Linked DNA regions of Homo sapiens: region 2 is linked to region 1. Evidence: fine-mapped expression QTL. Tissue or cell type: whole blood. Region 1 holds a variant in brackets; the other region holds the start of a gene. All regions are shown on one strand. Distances are from middle to middle.

Region 1 (8,106 bases):
GCGTGATCTCAGCTCACTGTAACCTCTGCCTCCCGGGTTCAAGTGATTCTCCTGCCTCAGCCTCCTGAGTAGCTGGGATTACAGGCGCCCACCACCACACCCAGCTAGTTTTTTGTATTTTTAGTAGAGCTGGGGTTTCACCATGTTGGCCATGCTGGTCTTGAACTCCTGACCTCAGGTGATCCACTTGCCTCAGCCTCCCAAAGTGCTGGGATTACAGGCATGAGCCACCGCACCCGGCCAATTTTGTTCTTTAAAAGGGTGCATGTTATAGTCCTAAGCAGATAAAACCTATGCATTTGGCAACATTGAATGTATAACATCTTTTAAACATTCGCCAATTTGTTTAGTAAAAACCGAGATCTTATTTTAATTTATATTTCTGTGGTTTATAGTGATGTCAAACATCGTTTAATATGTTTGTTCAATTTTCATTTTTGGGGAGAGTTACTCGTTAACTTTAAAAAATATTTTCCTTGTTTATAGTAATTATCTAACTTTTATAGTATCCAGTTTACAGTTTCTTCAGAACTTTAGCTAAATCCTTTTAGGCTTAAAGATCACCAAGTAGAAGAGACTATAAAGATGTGCTTTTTTTTTTTTTTTTTTTTTTTGAGATGGAGTCTCGCTTTGTCGCCAGGCGGGAGTGCAGTGGCGCGATCTTGGCTCACTGCAACCTCCACCTCCCGAGTTCAAGCGTTTCTCCTGCCTCAGCCTCCCGAGTAACTGGGACTACAGGCACACGCCACCATGCCCAGCTAATTTTTGTATTTTTAGTGGAGACAAGGTTTCACCATGTTGGCCAGGATGGTCTCAATCTCTTGACCTCGTGATCCACCTGCCTCGGCCTCCCTGAGTGCTGAGACTACAGGCGTGAGCCACCGTGCCCAGCCAAAGATGTGCTTTTAACTTTTATATTTAACTACTTATGCCTTGTGGAATAAAATCCCAACTTCCTAAACCACATTTAGTAAGTCAGTTCCTCCTGTGTTTTATTTGCAGGTTTCTTGACAATATATAGGTGATATAACATGGCATAATCTTAACGTAAATGTTAAGTGACAAAACTAGTAATGGAAGCCAGATTTTGTTCAGAGTATTATACTACTCTGTCTCCATGTGGATAACCCACTATCACTTCAAATTTTTTTTTGAATCTAAAATCATCTGTCCCAACTCAGTTTTCTCTCTGCTCCTTATCCTGTTCAAAGGTACCACCTTTCTCCTACTCCCTTAAACATAAATTATTTTAGACACTTAATCTTCTTTATACCCTCTCAACAAGTTTGGCTCCCATATTTCCCCTCGTCACCCTCATTCAGATCTCCTTTCCCTTTCATATGTGATATATGGTAATAACCTATTTTTTTTCTTAACCCCAAGCTCTTCCCATCTGTCATGGGTATTACAGCCAAAATCATCTTTCAGAATACTGATGTAATCGTATGACTTCTTTGGCTCAAAAGTTTCTAAACTCCTGTTACCTAAAAAGTCAAGTCTAAATTTATACTTCAATTCAAAGAGTGTAATAGCCTGGTTCCAGCCTGTTCACCCAACTTTACTTCCCACTGCTCCCCAAAATAACATTGTGTTCTAGCAAGGTCTCATTTCTCAACTTCCTTTGGGTATGTCACACTCCCAACTCGGTATCTTTTTTTTTTTTTTTTTTTTTTTGAGACAAAGTCTCACTCTGTCACCCAGGCTAGAGTGCGGTGGCATGATCTCGGCTCACTGCAACCTCTGCCTCCCGGGTTCAAGCAATTCTCCTGCCTCAGCCTCCCGAGTAGCTGGGACTATAGGCACACGCTACCACACCCAGCTAATTTTTGTATTTTTAGTAGAGAAGGAGTTTTGCCATATTGGCCAGGCCGGTCTCAAACTTGTGACCTCAAGTGATCTGCCTGCCTCGGCCTCCCAAAGTGCTGGGATTACAGGCGTGAGCCACTGCGCCGGCCCCAATTCTATCTTAGCTTATAAATCCCACCCCACCAGAAAGAAATTATCCAGTTCTTACTGACAGTTTCTTAATTACATCATTACATCGGTTTTTCATGTATTTATGATAATACCATGCTGTTCCAGTAAGAAATAGAACAAATCATAGTTACTTAAACTCTTTAAAAATAAATAGCTATTTATTCCTCTGAAAAGTATTTTAAGGTTGGGGGCCTTTATACATAAATGCAACTTTTGAGATTACCTTTTTTTCTTTGTGTGTGTGTTTTAGGTTTGGCTCTTTAACCATGGATGGTGGCCTTCGCAACGTTGACTGTCTTTAGCTTTCTAATAGAAGTTTAAGAAAAGTTTCCGTTTGCACAAGAAAATAACGCTTGGGCATTAAATGAATGCCTTTATAGATAGTCACTTGTTTCTACAATTCAGTATTTGATGTGGTCGTGTAAATATGTACAATATTGTAAATACATAAAAAATATACAAATTTTTGGCTGCTGTGAAGATGTAATTTTATCTTTTAACATTTATAATTATATGAGGAAATTTGACCTCAGTGATCACGAGAAGAAAGCCATGACCGACCAATATGTTGACATACTGATCCTCTACTCTGAGTGGGGCTAAATAAGTTATTTTCTCTGACCGCCTACTGGAAATATTTTTAAGTGGAACCAAAATAGGCATCCTTACAAATCAGGAAGACTGACTTGACACGTTTGTAAATGGTAGAACGGTGGCTACTGTGAGTGGGGAGCAGAACCGCACCACTGTTATACTGGGATAACAATTTTTTTGAGAAGGATAAAGTGGCATTATTTTATTTTACAAGGTGCCCAGATCCCAGTTATCCTTGTATCCATGTAATTTCAGATGAATTATTAAGCAAACATTTTAAAGTGAATTCATTATTAAAAACTATTCATTTTTTTCCTTTGGCCATAAATGTGTAATTGTCATTAAAATTCTAAGGTCATTTCAACTGTTTTAAGCTGTATATTTCTTTAATTCTGCTTACTATTTCATGGAAAAAAATAAATTTCTCAATTTTAATGTAAAGAGTTCATGTGTTTCTTTGTATCCAGTTTGTGAAACAAAAGTTATCTTTTGAAAGTAACAATATAGATGATAATCATAAACTACTCAGAATATTGGATCTAGGGACAATTTTCTGTCTCTTCTAAACCCACTAATTCTAAATTTAGTATGAAGTTCTTTCATATACTTAGGCTATTATACAAATTGAAAAGGAACATTTCCTTTTTTTTTTTTTTTTGAGACAAGAGTCTCGCTCTGTTGCTCAGGCTGGAGTACAGTGGTGTGATCTCTGCTCACTGCAACCTCGGCCTCCGAGGTTCAAGCAATTCTCCTGCCTCAGCCTCCCAAGTAGCTGGGATTACAGGTGTGCACCACCATGCCTGGCTAATTTTTGTATTTTTAGTAGTGATGAGGTTTCACCATGTTGGTCAGGCTGGTCTCAAATTCCTGGCCTCAAGTGATCCGCCCGCCTCAGCTTCCCAAAGTGCTGGGATTAGAGGGTTGAGTCACCACGCCCAGCCGAAAAGGAACATTTTCTCTGAAAAATATACTCAGAGTTCTAGACTAAGGGATTGTGCTCAGCAAGAAATTATTTCATCCAACAGGACTTTTCTTTCTTTTGGTTTTGGTTTGTGGCTTTTCAGACTGGTGAAGTGTGATTACATAAAACCCGCGTATCATAAAAATAACATATCCTAAAGAGAAATAAATTTGTCTACCAAGAACATCAGTAACTTCATCAGTTTTAAGAAATGATTAGGATCTTAAGTGAGATTATGATGCATTATTGTAGTGGAGAATTTTAAGCGTCATATGTACACGTAACAAATAAATGCAAGGGTGAATGCCTTTATTTAAATAATACAGTTATCCACTGTCAGTTACCTGTTTAGTTTGAGAGTGTGTGGGGCAAGGAAGTATTTAATCCCTCTTTATTTTAATTTTCCATTTGACCGTCTAATATGGGTATCTTGTATAGTTTAAAAGCTTATATCACTGAATATTAGGTAAAATTTTACTCAAATTATGTGATTATTTGATATATTTGCCAATTTAGTTTTTATTTCAGCACCTCTAGCAAACAACACCAATAAATAGAACCTTTATGTGGCGATTGTATTTTTATTAATAGTATTGATAGGAATATATCTATTCCACAGTAGTATTTTTTGAGATTTACTCTTTTATTTCCCCCTTA[C/G]AGTGACATGGAAGAGAAGCATTCTTGCTTTCAGTATTTTACCCTCAAAAATGCATCCTCATTCAAAACATTTATTTTTCAAAACATTTTAAATAAATAAATGCATGATACCAGTCTGCTAATGTTCAGTGACTATTTAAATGAAATTAGCTTTAAAATAAGTTGTATCTTCACTTTAGTAGCTTTTTAAAAATATTATAATGTTTTGAAAAGATAGCAATTAATGGTATAAAAATAGTATATATAACAAATAGAAGATGGGTGTGATGGCTCATGTCTGTAATCTCAGCGCTTTGGGAGGCTGAGGCAGGGATATCACTTGAGATCAGGAATTCTAGACCAGCCTGGGCAACATAGCAAGAGCCCTGTCTCTACAAAAAAAAAAAAAAAATTTTTTTTTAATTGGCCAGGCATGGTGGCATGTGCCACAGTCCCAGCTACTCAGAGGCTGAGCTGCGAAGACTGCTTCAGTCCAGGAGTTAAAGGTTACAGTGAGCTATGATTGCCAGCCTGGGTGGCAGAGAGAGACCCTGTCTCAAAAAATTAAAAAAAAAAATAGAAGCGTTAGTAGATGTAACTCTTAGCATAAAACAAGTTATAGTACTGACAGCAGAAAAAATAAAAGTGAAATATGTGAATATAAAGTATATCAAAAGAGAGCTTTGGCCGGGCGCGGTGGCTCACGCCTGTAATCCCAGCACTTTGGGAGGCCAAGGCGGGCGGATCACCTGAGGTCAGGAGTTCAAGACCAGCCTGGCCAACATGGTGAAACCCTGTCTCTACTGAAAATACAAAAATTAGCTGAGCATGGTGGCAGGCGCCTGTAATCCCAGCTACTCGGGAGGCTGAGGCAAGAGAAAAGCTTGGACCTGGGAGGCGGAGGTTGCAGTGAGCCAAGGTTGTGCCACTGCACTCCAGCCTGGGCAACAAGAGTGAGACTTTGTCTCAAAAATAAAAAATAAAAAAATAAGGGATAGCTTCAAGTAAATAAACAGGAATGTAAGGTTAGGAAAGAAATGGGAAAAATAATCCCATTAAGTAAGTCTCCTAAAATTCGAGCTGCCGGCGGGGCACGGTGGCTCATGCCTGTAATCCTAGCACTTTGGGAGGCTGAGGCGGGCCGATCACCTGAGATCAGGAGTTCGAGACCAGCCTGGCCAACATGGTGAAACCCCGTCTCTACTAAAAATAAAAAATTAGGCTGAGCGCAGTGGCTCACGCCTGTAATCCCAGCACTTTGGGAGGCTGAGGCAGGTGGATCACGAGGTCAACAGATCAAGACCATCCTGACCAACATGGTGAAACCCCTTCTCTACTAAAAATACAAAAATTAGCCGGGCGTGGTGGTATGCACCTGTAGTCCCAGCTACTTGGGAGGCTGAGGCAGGAGAATTGCTTGAACCTGGGAGGCAGAGTTGCAGTGAGGTGAGATTATGCCAACCGCACTCCAGCCTGTCAACACAGCAAGACTCCATCTCAAAAAAAAAATAATAATAAAAATAAATAAATAATTAGCTGGGTGTAGTGGCATGCACCTGTAGTCCCAGCTACTTGGGAGGCTGAGGCAGGAGAATCACTTGAACCCAGGAGGCGGAGGTTGCAGTGAGCTGAGATCGCGCCTGGGCAACGGAGTGAGACTCCATCTCAAAAAAAAAAAAAAATCCAGCTGCCATTATTTTGGAGGTTACCAAATTATTGGCTTATAGACCTGATTATACCATGTCAAAAGAAATGCTTCTTAGATATTAAAAAAAATCAACATTTCTTTACAAATGTAGTGTCTTTATCCATAAATTATCCAGAAAAAAATTACAATAATCCTGAACTTTTTATGATTGTTTTGGTTTAGATTGTTTTTCTTTGGTTTTTGTTTTTTGCAATAGTGTTTACCTTTTGTGGTGGTCTGTGTTAAAAGTAAGAGATACATTGTTTAGAATTAAGAAAGGGACTATCAGTAGGAATAAGGACTCTCAACTGAAATGTCAACAATTTATTCCCCTTTCAGAACAGCCACCACCAGGGCTAGTCTTTTTTTTTTTTTTTTTTTTTTTTTTTTTGAGATGGAGTTTCACTCTTGTTGCCCAGGCTGGAGTGCAGTGGCGCAGTCTCAGCTCACTGCAACCTCCACCTCCCAGGTTCAAGTGATTCTCCTGCCTCAGCCTCCCAAGTAACTGAAATTACAGATGCCCACCAGCATGCCCGGCTAATTTTTGTATTTTTATTAGAGACGGGGTTTCACCATGTTGGTCAGGCTGGTCTCAAACTCCTGACCTCAGGTTATCCGCCTGCCTCAGCCTCCCAAAGTGCTGGGATTACAGGCATGAGCCACCGCACCCGGCCAAGAGCTAGTCTTTTGTTTCTAATTTCACCTCACTCCGATGTGTTTTATATGTTGTGCTTTGTCTTTGAGGAAGTGCTGCAGAAAATTTATAATTACTCAAACAAATTTTTGAAACTGAGAAGTGCTGGGGCAGACACACATAGTTGAAGGGAAAAACATTGAAAGAAATCTTTACTATTTTAGCTGGATTCTCCACCCCACATCCCACTTTTAAGAAGACCTGAAAAACTCTTACACTGTTGTTTTAGTTAGACTTGCTCCCCACTTGTCACTTGTAAGAAGAATCAAAGTCCAAATTCCTAAGAAATACTGAAAATGGAATAGGAAACAAAAACATCTGATCTGGAAATAAAAACTGGCAATATAATAATATCCGTTGTTTCTCTTTAGAGAGTAAATCAGCTCCAAAAATTTGCTGTGGCATATAAAAAGCAAGCCCAAATATTACATCAGGCTGTTTAATCGACTTAGCTCCTAAATGAATATATGAATAAGTTTATTTCTTTTGACATAAACAGAATGCACAAGGACCAACTGTTAGACATAGTCTTAGGAGTGATGATGGGGAACCTCAGTACAAGCTGCGTGGTAGACAACTAGGCATTGATGTCTGCTGAAATGCTGAAATGGATTCAGTAATGTTACAATGTTAGAAGTTCTAGAGAATTGTTCAATAAATGGTTAAAGATCAAAATAGGACCCTGGGGGAAAATGGTCTTTTGCATCTTTTTTTTTTTTTTGAAGAGTCTTGCTCTGTCACCCAGGCTGGAGTGCAGTAGTGCTATCATAGCTCACTGCAGCTTCCATCTTCTGGATTCTAGCAGTCCTCCCACCTCAGCCTCCTGAGTAGCTGGGACTATAGGTACGTGCCACCATGCCCAGCTTTTTTTTTCCTTTTTCTAGAGACAGCATTTCGCTTTGTTGGCTCGGCTGGTCTTGAACTCCTGGGCTCAAGCAATCCTCCCACCTCAGCCTCCCAAAGTGCTGGGATTACAGGTGTGAGCCCCTGTGCCTGGCCCTTTTACACATTTTTTGACTCATAAGAACTAATTTTTTTTTTTCTGGGATAAATTCCTGCTAAAGTTTCAAATAGGTTTCATTTTTCCAGTAAAAATGCACAAAACAAATGGGATCAAGGCTATGGCTTTAGGAGATTGCTTGTCCATCACCACTAAGTCCTGCAAATTACCACTGACAATTCTGTTGGAAGTTGAGTTAGTGGATCCTGTTTTTTTTCACTCCTCTATGAAAAAATTGTGTTTTTATGAACGAGGTCAGGAGGTCCATGCTTGAAAATTACCAAGTGTTGCATTAGGTTAGAGCTTCTCTTAAGAAAGCTTAAAACTCTTTCTTTAGAAAGAACATCTATTAATACAGTTTCTAGTTATGAGGGCCAAGGTCTAAAGGACAAGCCAAAAGAATGACAGAGGAAGGGGATTTAGGGCTAACAGGTGGTCCCCAGACATATTGGCTGAAAGGCAGTTCACAGCTAAAGTGTCATATGTGGGTGTTACTGTGCTCCTCATCCATGCTCTCTGTAGCGAGTCATTCTGGAACACTCCTGGTTCTCGCTATG
Region 2 (8,106 bases), 99 kb before region 1:
AAAATTGAAACTACCATTACAAAATTATAACCAAGACAGTGAAAGAGATCTGATCTGACCAACTGCATTTTGCTTCTAAACTCCAAGCTGTCCTTGTTCATTCCTGGGCATAGGCTGAACTAACTTTGGAAGGATCTTAGTTTAGAGTTTATAGTTAAAACAAAGACAATAACAGCCTCTTCCCAAAACACCCTTCTTACCTGGGGACTAGACTACCTTTGTAGGACTAACAAATTAGCCATAAGATTAGAAATTATTGTTTAGAAATCATGCAGCTGGAGGCTACAAGATTCTGATCCTCCCCGAATTGTTCCTGGGGATAACACCACTATTGTAAAACCTACGATCAGTGCTTGAGATATTTTGCAAACCCTGTACTTGATAGATCAGCTGGCACCACTCAGATCAAAAAACTGGGTCATCTGATCTTGTGGCCGCCACCCAGGAACTGACTCAGTGCGCAGGAGGACAGCTTCAACTCTCTCTGATTTCATCTCTGATCCAACCAATCAGCACTCTCAATTCACTGACCTTCCCTCATCCATCAAATCAGCCTTAAACACTCTGATCCCTGAATGCTCAGGGAGACTGATTTGAATAATAATAAAACTCAGTCTCCCATACAGGGAGCTCTATGTGAATTACTCTTTCTCTATTGAGATTCCCCTATCTTGATAAATTGGGTCTGTCTAGGCAGCAGGGAACCTATTGGGCAGTTACAAAAGGAGCCTTTTGGGCAGTTACAAAATGATAGTGTTATTTGTCAACATGTTGATGACTAACATTTTCATCTGAGATGAGAAACTGCCCATCCCTTCATGGACGGAGGAGGCAGAATATGGAATGGTCAAATGTAATACCTCTCTTAGGTCCTCTTCAGTTGGATTCTACCAAGTGCTTCTTTATTTGTTCTTTTTGTTGTTGTTGTTGTTGTGGTTGTTGAGATGAAGTCTCACTCTGTTGCCCAAGCTGGAGTGCAGTGGTGCGATCTCAGCTCACTGCAACTCCACCTCCCGGTTCAAGCAATTCTCCTGCCTCAGCCTCCCGAGTAGCTGGGACTACAGGCATGTGCCACCACGTCCTGCTAATTTTTGTATTTTTAGTAGAGGCAGGGTTTCACTATGTTGGCCAAGCTGGTCTTGAACTCCTGACCTCCTGAACCACCCATCTCGGCCTCCCAAGGTGCTGGGATTACAGGCATGCATCACCACACCCGGCTTTTTTTTTTTGAGATGGAGTCTCACTGTGTTGCCCAAGCTGGAGTGCAGTGGCGCAATCTCGGCTCACTGCAACCTCCCAGGTTCATGCAATTCTCCTGCCTCAGCTTCCCAAGTAACTGGGACTACAGGCATGTGCCACCATGCCCGGCTAATTTTTTTTTTGTATTTTTAGTAGAGACGTGATTTTACTGTGTTGGCCAGGCTGGTCTCGATCTCTTGACCTTGTGATCCATCTGCCTCAGCCTCCCAAAGTGCCGGGATTACAGGCATGAGCCACCGCGCCTAGCCTCTTTATTTGTTCTGAAATAATATGAGTTTACAAAGTTGAAAGAGATTTCTACAATTCTAGGTATTTCAACTACCATAAACGAAAGAGCTAATGTTAGTAGATAAACTGTAGATAAACTGAAGATAGGCTTTGTATAACATTCAACATAAGAAGTAGCCATAAAATGAATTTACAAACAAAACAGCAAGTAAAGACATCTATAATACGATAGATTGAATTGCCATATTCTTTAGGATGAGGCCTGGAATATGCTGAACATACAGATTGCAGAGGCACTCAGCCCAAGATTAGTATTGGGCCTTCATACTCCACAGTTGATCATCACAGCTAATATAAGAATTCATGCAATGATTCAGTTATTGAGTTGAAACTAGCAGGCTGGCACTGTGCTAGACTCGAAAGATATACTGAAATAGGTAGGGCAGAAATCCTAGCCTGAGATTTTTTTTCTTAGAAATAACATTCATAGCAACTTGTGAAAAAAGCCATGCCTGTGTCTCCAGCAGCAGTGAAACAAGATGGTGGATCCCCTCACCATTAACCCCCATATGGAAAGGGTATATGTAATTCAGAAGGGATGTGTATTATGTCTGTTCTCACACTGCTATAAAGGAATGCCTGGGACTGGGTAATTTATAAAGGAAAGAGATTTAATTGACTCACAGTACCTCAGGGCTGAGGAGGCCTCAGGAAACTTACAATCATGGCAGAAGGGGAAGCAAACACATCATTCTTCACATGGTGGCAGGGGAGAGAAGAATGAGTGCCCAGCAAAGGGGGAAGCCCCTTATAAAACCATCAGATCTCATGAAAACTCACTATTACGAGAACAGGGTGGGGGAAACCAACCCCATGATTCAATTATCTCCACCTGATCCCGCCCATGACATGAGGGGATTATGGGAATTACAATTCAAGATGAGATTTGGGTGGAGACACAGCCAAACCACGTCAGGATGTGTAGACAACTGAAGTACAATAACATCAAGGCTGTTTTGACGTAAGGGCAGAATTTACAGTATGTGCTCTCACACAACTTGAAATCTTAAAGGCCTTCCGGGAACAGGGTTAATCAGAAACCAACATGGCAGATTAGTACCAAAGATGGAGTTACTTTAGCTTCCAGATTCCACCCATCAATCCAGCTCTTACAGTTTCACTCGCCCTCCTATTTGGAGATGGTCCCTGAGCTTTTAGGGAGGGTGGTTTCATATGATATAGCTTTAGCAGCAGCGCCCTAGCAGTGGAAAACAGATTGGGCCCAGAGAGATTCCAAATGAGGGAGATTCACAGGCTTTGTTGAATTATCTCTAGTCTTGAGAATACCATGACTTTGGTTTTCTCAGAAGTAAAACAAGAGATACTTCTTGTTTATAATTAATTTGAATAATTAATAATTTGAATAGTAGAAACATAATGCATGCAAGGATTACAATCAAAAGAAAATTTGTATGCCAGAACAACAAAGAACCTATTTCGTTGGGAAGCCAACTGAGAGCAGCGTGAAGAAAATTAAGGCCTGACACAGGGACTCACACTCGTAATTCCAACACTTTGGGAAGCTGAGGTGGGAGGTTCATTTGAGCCTGGGAGTTAGAGATCAGCCTGGGCAACAGAGCAAGTCCCCATCTCTACAAAAACAAACAAAAATAGCCAGGTATGATGGTATGCACCCGTAGTCCCAGCTCCTTGGGCGGCTGAGGCAGGAGGATTGCTTGAGCCCAGGAGGTCAAGGCTGCAGTGAGCTATGACCACTCTACTCCAGACTGGGTAACAGAGCGAGACCCTTTCTCTAAAAACAAGAAAAAATTAAAACCCAGTTCTCCTTTAGCGACATCTTGTAGCCACTAGCCTGACATTTTAAACACATAAATTAGAAACATGATGCAAGAGTGATTCAAGGTATTTTATATAGGAAATGCCTGGTGTAGTGTCTTGGACAGCTAAATAAAGGTAGCTGTTAAAACATTAGTTTTATTCTATGCTCTTACCATTCCTCCCTCTCCAAGTTTTGTTTGTAGTCTGTGGCAGCAACCTAGTCTGTATTTAGTACACATTGAATAATCAACAATGAAATGTAAATATTGAGCACATTGTGTGTCAAACACATGTATTAACTCAAACCTCACAGAAACCCTTTGAGGTCGGTACTATTAACAATCCCCATTTTACATACGAGTAAACTGAAGCATGGATAGACTAAAGTAAAGTGCCTGAGGTCAACTAGTGAGGAGGCGGAGTGGCAGTCAAGTCGAGGCAGCCTAAGCCTACACTGCCTCTATGTTGCATTAATAAATTAATAAATCTGTGACCAAATAAATGAAGTGACATTTAGTAGCATCGAAAGATCCCGTGAGTAGGACTTCCTAAGAATGCTCTCCTTCTTTTCATGGACAAAATTTTAGTCTGTTTAAAATAAATTTTGGACCGGACACCGTGGCTCACGCCTGTAATCCCAGTACTTTGGGAGGCCGAGGCAGGTGATCACTTGAGGTCAGGAGTTCGAGATCAGCCTGTCCAACATGGTGCAACCCTGTCTCTACGAAAAATACAAAAATTAGCTGGGTATGGTGGCGCGCGCCTGTCATCCCAGCTACTCAGGAGGCTGATGCAGGAGAACTGCTTGAACCCCGGAGGCGGAGGTTGCAGTGAGCCAAGATCTCGCCATTGCACCCCATCCTGGGCGACAGAGCGAGACTCCGTCTCAAAGAATAAATAAATAAATTAATTAATTAATTTTGAAAACCTGTCAGCACTCATCAGAGCTTTACACTGCTGTACTCGGGACACTTGGGGCCGTAGACAAGCAATTAAATTGACTCACACGTGGTTAGAACCACGTCATCCTGATTCGTGAATCCGTACTCTCAACTACTAGAAGCCCTTTGTGGAATGCTCGGGGCGAACCTGACGCTTGAGCTCTGACACCACGCAGACACAGCCGGGGATTTAGGAGCTGGGTAGGGACTCCTGGGCCGGATGCCTCATCCCGGCATGCACCTCAAGCCCCGGTGACCACGCCTTCCGGCGAGCGCCAGGGAGCGCGTGTGCGCCTCGCCGCCCGGAAGCGCCGGCCGCTCCCTGCATGCTGGGAGTTGTAGGCCTCCGGCGTCAGCCCGCGGGCTGCCGCCCGCACTCTCCAAGAGACTGCTGGCGCCGGCGCCCGCCCGCGCGGCACCGACGCGGGGAGCGCGCTTCGCGCTGACTCAGCGGCGGCGGCGGCTGCGGCGGCGGCGGCGGCGTTAGCCGGCCCTCGCGCTCTTTCCCTTCCTGGGGCGCCGACCCCGCCCGCTTGCTTGCTTGCTTGCTTGCCTGCCTGCCTGCCTGCCCGGCGCCACGCAAGAGAAGGTGCCAGGGGACGCAGAGCGACTAGAGGCGCGCGGTCCCGGCCAGCACCGTCTCTGGCGTTGTAGCTGCGGCCGTGGCGGAGGACTACGGCGACAAGGACGAGGGCCGCTCTCCCAGCTCTCTGCGTGCCGCGCCGCTCCGCTCCGCTGGCTGACCATCTGGAGTGCAGGCTGGGAGGCGGGATGGAGTGATAGGGAAGGTGACTCGGGGCTCGGGGGCAGCGGGACCGGGACCAGGTTTGGTCCGCGTGAGGCTTCGAGGAAGTTGGCCGGGGCGGACCGGCCCGGGGGAGTCCCGACGCCAGGGAGGGTGCAGGCTTGGGACCCTCTATGGCGGTGCACCCCCTGGCTGGGCGGACCGGGTGGGGGTGGGTACGAGCCGGGGCCGCCGCCGAGGAGCGCGTCCCGAGTGCGTGGCCGGCGGTTGCTTGGTGTTTCATCACCCGAATTGCCACGAGGCTTCCTTTAGGGGAGGGATCGGGGGAGGGATGGGAGCAAGGCTAGCAGAGGAGGGTCGGCATCGCCTGTGGTTCCGAAGCCCGTTAGTCATCGTTGTAGCGTTATCAACTGTGGAGACCTCAAACTTGATTCTTCCCCCACCCCTGGACAAAAAGGAAAAGTGTTATTTCTGTGCAGTAATTGGCCAGCACGGACGCTCCATTTCTTCTCAAACCTTCCTCACCATCCTGCAGGACTAGAGAAGCATGAGGTTTCCCTGTAACCAGAAAAACGAGTACTTTTTGAAAGTGCTAATTAGTTGTGGCGGGCGGGGGTTGGGGGAGAGTTACGTTTTATTAAACCGACTTGTCAGCGTGGTGTTAAAAGGCTGGAAAGATTCAGTCGTAGTATTTGAAACAGTCTTCAGTAGGTGTAGAGGAATTTTTCCAAATTGTTTGATTCTTAATGGCTATCCAGGAAAAGTTAAGGCTTAATATTTTAAGTATGTTGCTTGCCTTCCCCCAAGAACCTTTGCAAGATGCATAATTGTTTACCGTATTGAAACATTTTTTGGGGTTTTGTTGTTGTTGTTTTGAGACGGAGTCTCGCTCGGTCGCCCAGGCTGCAGTGCAGTGGTGCCATCTCGGCTCACTGCAACCTCTGCCTCCCAGGTTCAAGTGATTCTGCAGCCTCAGCCTCCCGAGTAGCTCTATTACAGGTGCGCCCCGCCACACCTGGCTACTTTTTGTATTTTTCGTAGAGATGGAGTTTCACCGTGTTAGCCAGGATGGTCTCGATCTCTTGACCTCGCGATCCGCCCGCCTCAGCCTCCCAAAGTGCTGGGATTACAGGCGTGAGCCACCGCGCCCGGCCTTCCACTGCATATTGATCGTCCAAATGCCTTCTATGTGGGGGATTCTTTCTGTAGTGACAACTGTTAACTAGTTTGTTTCCTTGGGTTTATTGGCTATGTTTTCCTTAGGGCCACTTCATTTTTCTCCCGATAGCTTCAGAGTGACTTGACCAAGCTTAAGCACTTTTTCTTTTTTTTGACACAGTGTCTCACTCTGTCGCCCAGGCGGGAGTGCAATGACACGATCTCCGCTCACTGCAACCTCCCCCTCCCGGGTTCATGCGAGTCTTCTGCCTCAGCCTCCTGGGTAGCTGGGATTACAGGCGCAGGCCACCATGCCCAGCTAATTTTTGTATTTTTAGTAGAGACGGCGTTTCACCGTGTTGGTCAGGCTGGTCTCGAACTCCTGACCTCGTGATCCGCCCACCTCGGCCTCCCAAAATGCTGGGATTACAGGCGTGAGCCACCGTGCCCAGCCAGCAATTTTTTTTAGATGGAGTTTCGCTCTCGTTGACCAGGCTGGAGTGCGGTGGCGCCATCTCAGCTCACTGCAACCTCCGCCTCCCGGGTTCAAGCGATTCTCCTGCCTCAGCCTCCCGAATAGCTGGGATTGCAGGCATGTGCCACCACACCCGGCTAATTTTTGTATTTTTAGTAGAGACGGGGTTTCTCCATGTTGGTCAGGCTGGTCTCGAACTCCCGACCTCAGTTGATCTGCGCCCCCCTCCCCTCGGCCTTCCTTAGTGCTGGGATTATAGGCGTGAGCCACCCTGCCTGGCCAGCATTTTTTTAAAAAGCCATAGCAAATTCAAGGAAGCTTTTATTGGACTTCTCAATCAGGGATTCTTAGAAACTCCGAAATCGTTTTTTCTCTCTGTGGGCATTTTTCAGGGGAATGGACATCAGATTTTCTTAACATTTAGGGGGCGAAGGGAACCAGTGCCTTTCTTTGTGTTTTTCTGTCTTTTAAAAATGCTGATCTGGTATAAGAATGCCCCAAGTCGTTTCCATTCCACATGTTCCTACCTCTGACTATAAACAACGTATTGAGGGCTCACTATGTGCCAGCCATGCTCTGCATACCTTATCTCTTTGAAGCCTTTACAACTTTATGAGGCATATGGTCTTTTTCCCATGTCATAGAAAGGGTTCTCTCAGGTTTTGTAAGTTGTCCAAGTGGCCCCAATTAAAAAATGACAAGATGGGGATACAAACCCAGGTCTTTGAAATCCAAAACCTATGCTCTACTATGTCCTAGGGACATAGTGATGGATAGTCAAGACAGTCCTTGCCCTTTAAGATTGTGAGAAATGGCCGGGTGGCTCACACCTGTAATCCCAGCACTTTGGGAGGCCGAGTCTGGCAGATCACCTGAGATTAGGGGTTCGAGACCAGCCTGGGCAACATGGTGAAACCCCATCTCTACTAAAAAATACAAAAATTAGCCGGGTGTGGTGGCTCACCCCTGTAATCTCAGCTATTTGGGAGGCTGAGGCAGAAGAATCACTTGAACCCAGGAGCCAGAGGCTGCAGTGAGCCGAGATCATGTCACTGCACTCCACCCTGGGCAACAGAGTGAGACTGTCTCAAAAAAAAAAAAAAAAGATTAATGAGAGAAAACTAGTAAGCTGGCAGTGACAGCATAGCAGTGCTTAGGATGGGGCATGTAATCCAATTTGGGAGAGTTGGACAATAGAGGTCAAAGAAGTGTTCTTGAAAGAGATGGCTTCTAAGTTGAATTTCAAAGGACAGCAGGGGTTAACCTACTAACAAGAAGAAAGAGCAGTGTGCAAAGATGAAAGGTAGAATACCACTGGAGAACTGCCATATGGTTCACTAGCACTGGCCTTGCTGACCTGGTGTGCAGAATAGTGAGGAGTTATTCAAAAGTGTTTGGATCGTAATCTGAGGGCAGTAGGGAGTTACACTGCCTTGAAGTCTGCAAGTACGTTATGAACC

Evidence for each region. PIP is the estimated chance that this variant, and not a neighbour inherited with it, causes the effect.
Region 2: it holds the start of XPOT, and the variant in region 1 is fine-mapped to the expression of XPOT in whole blood (TOPMed, PIP above 0.99).

What each region holds. Positions count from the first base shown.
Region 1 is chr12:64,499,103-64,507,208 of GRCh38, forward strand. TBK1 (TANK binding kinase 1) reads left to right here. Exons shown (of 21, transcript NM_013254.4): 21 at 2,228-3,012. The coding sequence ends at 2,279. It overlaps LOC105369803 (a long non-coding RNA gene), which reads right to left. Exons shown (of 4, transcript NR_188079.1): 4 at 7,014-8,106. It also overlaps a transcript of RASSF3 not described here. Among named protein-coding and RNA genes, the nearest start is that of TBK1, 51 kb to the left of the region's middle. The variant C/G (reference allele first, on the strand shown) is at 4,190.
Region 2 is chr12:64,399,749-64,407,854 of GRCh38, forward strand. It overlaps XPOT (exportin for tRNA), which reads left to right and starts at 4,644. Exons shown (of 25, transcript NM_007235.6): 1 at 4,644-5,056. RefSeq lists enhancers at 4,219-4,268, 5,366-6,242 and silencers at 4,659-4,818, 5,149-5,258.